2 linked regions of the Homo sapiens genome follow. The protein of the gene in region 2 purifies or fractionates together with the protein of the main gene of each other region. This does not show direct contact. Each region holds a gene or a part of one and is shown on either strand. Other genes may lie near its edges. The genes, in order: SLC35F5 and PLCL2.

What was found.
Region 1: the proteins of PLCL2 (region 2) and SLC35F5 purify together in Homo sapiens (affinity purification with mass spectrometry, with the first as the bait; one large-scale study listed by BioGRID). This does not show direct contact.

What each region holds. Positions count from the first base shown.
Region 1 is NC_000002.12:113,718,476-113,722,304, forward strand, and holds part of SLC35F5 (solute carrier family 35 member F5), read right to left. Parts: intron 2,894-3,829; exon of another isoform or gene 2,815-2,893; intron 834-2,814; coding exon 679-833; intron 1-678.
Region 2 is NC_000003.12:17,006,750-17,010,578, reverse strand, and holds part of PLCL2 (inactive phospholipase C-like protein 2), read right to left. Parts: intron 906-3,829; coding exon 1-905. UniProt on the Homo sapiens protein: May play an role in the regulation of Ins(1,4,5)P3 around the endoplasmic reticulum.

The sequences.
Region 1 (3,829 bases), on a different chromosome or scaffold from region 2:
TTTCTATATTTAAGTTTGTTATGGCAAAACAGTAAACCTTTTGGTATTACCTGTGAATCATATTTTTTTTAAAAAAATGTAGTTACTAGGCAGGCAAATCACTTGTGGTTGGGAATTCAAGGCCAGCCTGGCCAACACGGTGAAACCTGCCTCTACTGAAAATACAAAAATTAGCTGGGCATGGTGGTGCATGCCTGTAATCCCAGCTACTCAGGAGGCTGAGGCAGGAGAATCACTTGAACCCAGGAGGCAGAGGTTGCAGTGAGCTGAGATCGTGCCATTGCACTCCAGGCTGGGCTACAGAGCAAGACTCTGTCAAGAAAGAGAAAAAAAGAAGAAAGAGAAGAAAGAAAGAGGGAAAGAAAAGGAAAGAAAAAGAGAGAGAAAGAAAAAGAAAGAAAGAAAGAAAGAAAGAAAGAAAGAAAGAAAGAAAGAAAGAAAGAAAGAAAGAAAAAGAAAGGAAGAAAGGAAGGAAGGAAGAAAGAAAGAAAGAAAGGAGAAAGAATCTTATTACCCAAAAGATCTAAACCAATTATTTTATTTTCATCTGCCGTAACATATAAGTTATCATCTTTCAATAATTCCTCACAAAATCTCTAAAAGCTAGGCCAGCATGATGCAATTCTCAGTTATCTAGCAAACACTATTTTTAAAAATGTGTATTGGGACTAAACTTACCTCTGAATTCGATGTTTTCTGCATATAAAAGCAAATATTCTTCTGATTCCCACCATCACAGGATCCCAATTATTATAATGGCATAGGAGAGTTACAATAAAAAATGAAAAAAATACAGGGATAGCTCCTGCAAAAAATAACCAAGAAAACTGCACCTAAAAATAAAAGATAGAGGAAAAAACACACCCACAATTATCATTAAGGCAATTTTCCCCTTCAATGTAAGTTTTCTATTTGTGAAAACTAGCAGGAATAAGAACAATGGGAAGACAAAATTAAACACTGACAATGTATTAAGTGTATTATTATTAAATAAGAATTCAAGACTTCAACTTACTATTCCATGCACCTAAATTACCAACAACAATAGTTCTTGCTTGGAAAATAGGCTAAAGGAAAGCCAAGAAAGCATACTTTCCATTTATAGGCATTGTACACTTAGAGTAGAGATATACAGTAGGAAACTTTGCTCCTGCACACCATGTTGCTCATTTCTTCTTCACTGTTTGCTGCCTAGTCTCAAGTGGGTCTCTCTCCCTCAGTTTCTGAAGTCATCTTCAAAAAATGTATATTTTCGTAAAAAGTTACAGTTGTAGTATGCTGTGTATGCTACAGTCCTTATGACAGTACCAAAAACAAATTAAGTGCAAATTTGACACTCAAAACTCGCTTATCTAGTAATAAATGAAAAAAGCTCAAAATGAAATAATGACCAAATAAAATAAAGAAAAAAATATAGAAATATTTTTACTAAGGAATGTTAGCCAGAGAAGACAAGCAACAAGACAAGCCTCATCAGTGATGTCAACAAGTCTGATCCTCCAATCCATCATTTATCAGAGTTGTCAAGAAAATAAAAAATATCTGTAAGTAGGGTGGAGGTATTAAAATCAAAAAGAAAAAAAAATAAGAAAAACAAATATATAAATAAAAAGAAAATAAAAAATAATGAGATGCCATCCAAAACAAAACTCATTCTTCCCTTTCACTAGTTCACTTTTACCATCTAGACTCAGCTAAAGATCAGAAACGATTGTCAAAGAAGCCTACACTGATCAACCACTGAGACTTAAGTGTAACACACAGGAGGTTTGCTTTAAAAATAATGATGAAAATAGTAACTTCTATCTATAAAATAGGAAAGGAAAACTGTGTTTGCCCTCTTTGAGAATTAAAAAAAAAAAAAAAAGGGCATGGAATCATAGGTAAGACTCCCTCTGGTGGAAAACATATACTATTCCATTTCATAGCACCATTAGTCAGAGTAAACGAGTTTTGTGAGCATAATGTCTTTTATGAGGGAACTCACAATGCATAACACAAGAATAATAACTGACAATTTTTAACATGCATGCCCTATTTCTATGGTATTCATATACAATGACTGAGTCAGCCTAAGAAGACCCCGGAAAGAATAGTCATTAAACTGAAAAGCCTTCATTTAGTTATGAAATTACCAATATATTTTAACATATTCCTGGAATATTTGCCAGAATGACTAATAATCAGGAAAAACCATGCTGCATTTAAATTATCCAAGATCAGAAAAGGTATTAAGAAGTTATAAATAATGCGATTAAAAATGTAGATATAGTTGATAGAATTATTTCATGAATATTCAACTAAAAACCTTATTTCATAACTGAATCAAAGCAAACTTAATAAAGATAGATAAAGCCCTAGAAGACTTTAGAAGGCAAGTTCACTTTCCACAATGTAGCTGTTTATATGTTGTCTCATAATAAAAAACTTCTAATTTGATTTCCAACAAGCTAAGACAAAAGAAACGAAGCCATTTATTACAACAAAGAAAATTACCTATGTAAACAAAATTTTTTTTTCTAATTCCTAAATATATCTGAATATCAAATAGAATATGATCAAGGATGCTTTCTATTATATAAAATGATTATAAATAGATTTAAATAACCAATTTGTTTCAAGCACAATGTTAATAAATGCTAACATTTCAGAAGCTATATATAAATACAGTTAGCTAATTAAACCTAAAAACCCTATAAAAGTAGATTTCTCTTATGTTTGTGTTACAGTTCTGGACACACACTGCTGCTTTTTCCAGATGGAATCTCCCTAACCTCAATCCTGACACCAACACACAGCCTGCTCCTTTAACTGACTGCCCAGTTCTAGATATGAAGACAATCAAGAACACCAAATCTTTTCTTGATTGTCTTCATATCCAGAACTGGGCAATCAGTTAAAGTTTGGTTATGTTTTTATAATTAATTGCATGTGCATACATTTCCCCGTTTTGTCTTTACCCTAAAATACTTTATTAAACAAATTATAACCATTATTGTTTGTAATGATAATTATGAAATGACTAATCATTTAATACAATTAGGTCCCCTGTGACTATTTTCTTAAAAATTCCTGAACATTAAGCTGCAATTTTTTTCAATCTACGAAAGCTTTTGTTTTTAAAATATCAGTACAATAAAGATGATTTACACAGTAGTCTACCAAAATCCTCTAACAAGTAGCACCTTCCCAGTTTCACAACCAGTTTGGTTCATATTCAGGATTATGACCTGAAGATGAAGAAGGGCCTAGATATTACTTAAATCTATAAAAGAATGATGTGTAATAATGTGCAATGTTAGTGTTATATGGAATATCCACATTCTTTGAAAATGCAAGTTATGTAAGATAATTAATTCTCAATTAAGGAAAGAATCTCAGTTCTTTAACCATGACAAATAAGAATTTACTGACCATAAAACAAAGTTAAATATCAGTAAAGAATTATTTTATAAATAAAGAGGATATAGAGCACTAAGCATATTTTGCTTTTATCTTTTTTTTTTTTTTTTTTTTTGAGATGGAGTCTTGTTCTGTTGCCCAGGCTGGAGCGCAGTGGCATGATCTTGGCTCACTGCAACCTCCGCCTCCCGGGTTCAAGTGATTCTCCTGCCTCAGCCTCCCAAGTAGCTGGGATTACAGGTGCACGCCATCACACCCAGCTAATTTTTGTATTTTTAGTAGAGACGGGGTTTCACCATGCTGGCCAGGCTGGTCTCGAACTCCTAACCTCAAGTGATCTGCCTGCCTCGGCCTCCCAAGTGCTGGGATTACAGGCGTGAGCCACTGTGCCTGGCTAAGACCTAGAGAAAAATAGGTTTAAAATTTT
Region 2 (3,829 bases):
GACATAAGGTAATTAGTGAACCCGTCTATGGAGAGCCAGCCCTTTTCCTGACCCTCTTTGGATGGTTCATATTTGTGAATAATTTCAAGGCTTATTTCCTCATTTATATGTGCCACACCCTGTTCTGCCTCAAGAAACATCATAAGGTCCTTGGTATCAAGGAATTCTTTATTGCTTGAAAACTGAACTAAAAGGAAATAAATTTCAGGTCTAGTACAAAGCTCATGAAAAACCTCAATAAATTCTTCCTTTGTGACCTCGGTACCAGCTTTGTCCTTTGATTTATGCAATTCTTTGAACTTAAGCTCAATTTTGCTCGTTTTTAAACCAGGATTGAGGTTTCTGATACATTGCACAGCATTACACAGAGTTATATGTCCAAGGTTATCTACATCAATTTCACTAAACATTTGTGAAACCCAAGAAGTCCTCATGTTATCTTGGCTACTTTCTAACATATCAAGTGTATGTTTTCCATAAGAAATTAGGTACCGCAGTCCTGTAACCCAGATGTTTGCAACATCTGCGGAGTTGGCAACCAAATCCAGTGACTCATAATTCTCTCCATATATGACGGAAAACGCACAATCTTCAGATATCTGGTCAGAAATGCCATTGCTGCGGAATATGTCTGTGTTTTTTCCTGTTCTCACTTCCTTGATGGATTTAATGTCAATCTTGGCTTTCTCAGAATCCTTCTTAGATGGCTCCCACCTTAGGCTCTGCATGTCAGCATCCAGTAAAAAGTACCTATGATAAATTCTAGAGTTGGAGCGAACCTTTTTGAGTTCTGAACCCTCAACCATTGAATTAATACAATCACTTGCACTGCTGATCTTCTTCTCTGTTGGCATGCTGCTGAATGAGACTGTCTTTTTCCGTTCCCTCTTCTGTTTTGTACCATCCTGAGAGGAAAAAAAGACCGTATATTAGAATAACATAAATATAGGTTTCTATGTTCAAGATTATGAATAGAAATTTAATTTCCTAGAAAAAAATCATACTATTAAGATTTCCTATTCTAGATTCCTGTGATGAATGATACTCATTCATCTCTAAAGCTCAGAATTGGCCTTGCAGTTGACAGCCTAATACCAACAGGTATGAAATCATTATTGAATAATTGCAATTCATATTTATCAAGAAGAACAATTTCAGGCCAGGGACGGAGGTTCACACCTATAAACTCAGCACTTTGGGAGGCTAAGGCAGGAGGATTGCTTGAGGTGAGGAGTTTGAGACCAACCTGGGTAATACAGTGAGATCCCATCTCTACAAAAAAAAATTTTTTTTGGCCGGGCATGGTGGCTCATGCCTGTAATCCCAGCACTTTGGGAGGCCAAGAAGGGGCAGATCACCCAAGGTCAGAAGTTTGAGACCAGCCTGGCCAACGTGCTGAAACCCTGTCTCTACTAAAAATACAAAAATTAGCCGGGCATGGTGGCGGGTGCCTGTAATCCCACCTACTCGGGAGGCTGAGGCAGGAGAATCGTTTGAATCCGTGAGGCAAAGGTTGCAGTGAGCTGAGATTGTGTCACTGCACTCCAGCCTGGGCAACAGAGTGAGAATCCGTCTCAAAAAAAAAAAAAATTAATTAGCCAGATATGGTGGCTCATGCCTGTAGTCCTAGCTATTCAGGGGGCTGAGATGGGAAGATTGCTTGAGCCCAGGAGATTGAGGCTGCAATGAGCTATGATCTTGCCACAGCACTCCAATGTGGACAACAGAACAAGATCCTGTCTCAAAAAATAGAAAGAAAGAAACAATTTTCAGAGCCCAGAGAAAAGTGAAAATGCAGGATTCCCTGATTAAAAATTATTAAGAATTTCAAGGTGACAGAGGAGCTAAGTGAAGCCCAGGGCTCTTCTGAGTCAGTGTGAAGCCTGTGCAACTGTACAGGTCATACACCATGAAACAGGCCCTGTTTCTACGTACGCCTCCTACACCAATACTTCTCAAAGGCTTGTCACCAGACCACCTGCCTCAGAATCATCTGGGTTACCTGGTTACAATGCAGATTGCTAGGCCCATGGAACCAGCTCCCTGGGGCTGGTGCCCAGGAATTTACATCAAGGTAGCACTCCATGTGACGGAGGATGTACACTAAAGTTTAAAAACCATTTCCTGACTACTTGGGCTAAGACGTCTAGACTATTTCTGGAAACTATTTGCACCAAATGATGAGAAACAGCTAAGTAGAAACCAATTAAGTAACTGTTAAATGGGAATTCCAGCAGAAATTCCTCTCTCCAAAGTCTCATACTAGATCAGTCATCAGTATACATCAGATAGACATGTAAGTCTGAGATGAAGGGCTAGATTATAGCTGTTGGAGCTCCTAAAATCGTAGAGTTGGATTTATTAAAACCTATTACTATGCCCCAATGCTCAGAACAATGTCACCTTGTACCTTAATATTAATAGATTATTAAAAGGACTAAGTTTAAAACTTCAGGCAGCACTTATTTCTAAAGAAGTTAGCATCACCAGTAAGGCACTGTTCAACTTTCCTGCTTAAGGTAACATGTTCTCATCTTAAGGGGCTGACATCCACATCTGTGTGTGTATTTAAGTCCTTCCTTGTATGGAGACCTTTATTATTTGAAAAGAGTGCTCAAATTACCTCAAAAGATCTTTCACAATTTTAAACCTAAAAGATGATACTGCCTTTCAGTATGTGTATAAAATCTATGACAAATTTTCAGTATTCATTGTATTTATAAATAAGAAATAGGGATGGGAGTTGGAATTATATCACTTTCATGACAAAGAAAAGAACATTGTTGAATATTATCCAAAGGCAATTCTAATTTTCCTGCTCTGGATAGAAAATATCTGTATTTTAAAAAGCTATTATGCTATACTCTATCTCTGAAATTTAAAACCACTTTTACTTTCTAACTACCTATACTTCCAAAAGCAATTTGCAGAAGGTAATTAAACTTAAACTTTAAATCATATGGGTATCATTTTCCTCAAAGTTTCAAAATGAACCATAGAAGCTTTTGTGATCTGGGTGCCAAGACAAAACATAAAAGCCACAAGGTAGAATATTTCTTTACAATTATATCCTCAGAACAATAAAGTGCAAAATACATAAAAACTGTGGTAATTGTATCTGTAAGATACATTATATTAAAGCCATTTCAAATCCCTAAAGCATAGATTGTATTACATCAATTTGAGTGAGTTAGCATGAAATTAGTTTTGTAATCAGCCATGCATAAGGACATGAAACAAATGTATAATTTTCTATTTTTCAGAATGACGTCTTTAGTTTTTTTTTCCCAGTAGAGACGGGGTTTCACCATGTTAGCCAGGATGGTCTCGATCTCCTGACCTCGTGATCCGTCTGCGTCAGCCTCCCAAAGTGCTAGGATTACAGGTGTGAGCCACCACGCCTGACCGATGTCTTTAGTTTTTAAAAGACGCATTTACCTTTGATAAAGACAACATACTGACTCAGTTAGGGAATTTTATAATCTTTATATATCGTGTCTCAAAGATGACACTAGTAGAACAATTACAAAAATATATGGATGTGGTTTATCCACTGATCCATTAAGAAATATATAGTATTTTCCCAACATTGTAATCTTTTATTCTTTCATTTTTACAGGCTGATTAATATTCTGTTACACTTTCTAATTTGTTATAAATGATACATTTCAGATAAACAGGTTTCTTTTTTATTAAGAGGGAAAAGGCCTAATAGCAAAGTAAGTTAATAACATACACACATGCTCACATACCCATGTATGTGGAACAGGCAGCAGCTTAAACACCACACTGTGGCTTTAAGAACATTGCCATGCTTTTCACAAACCAG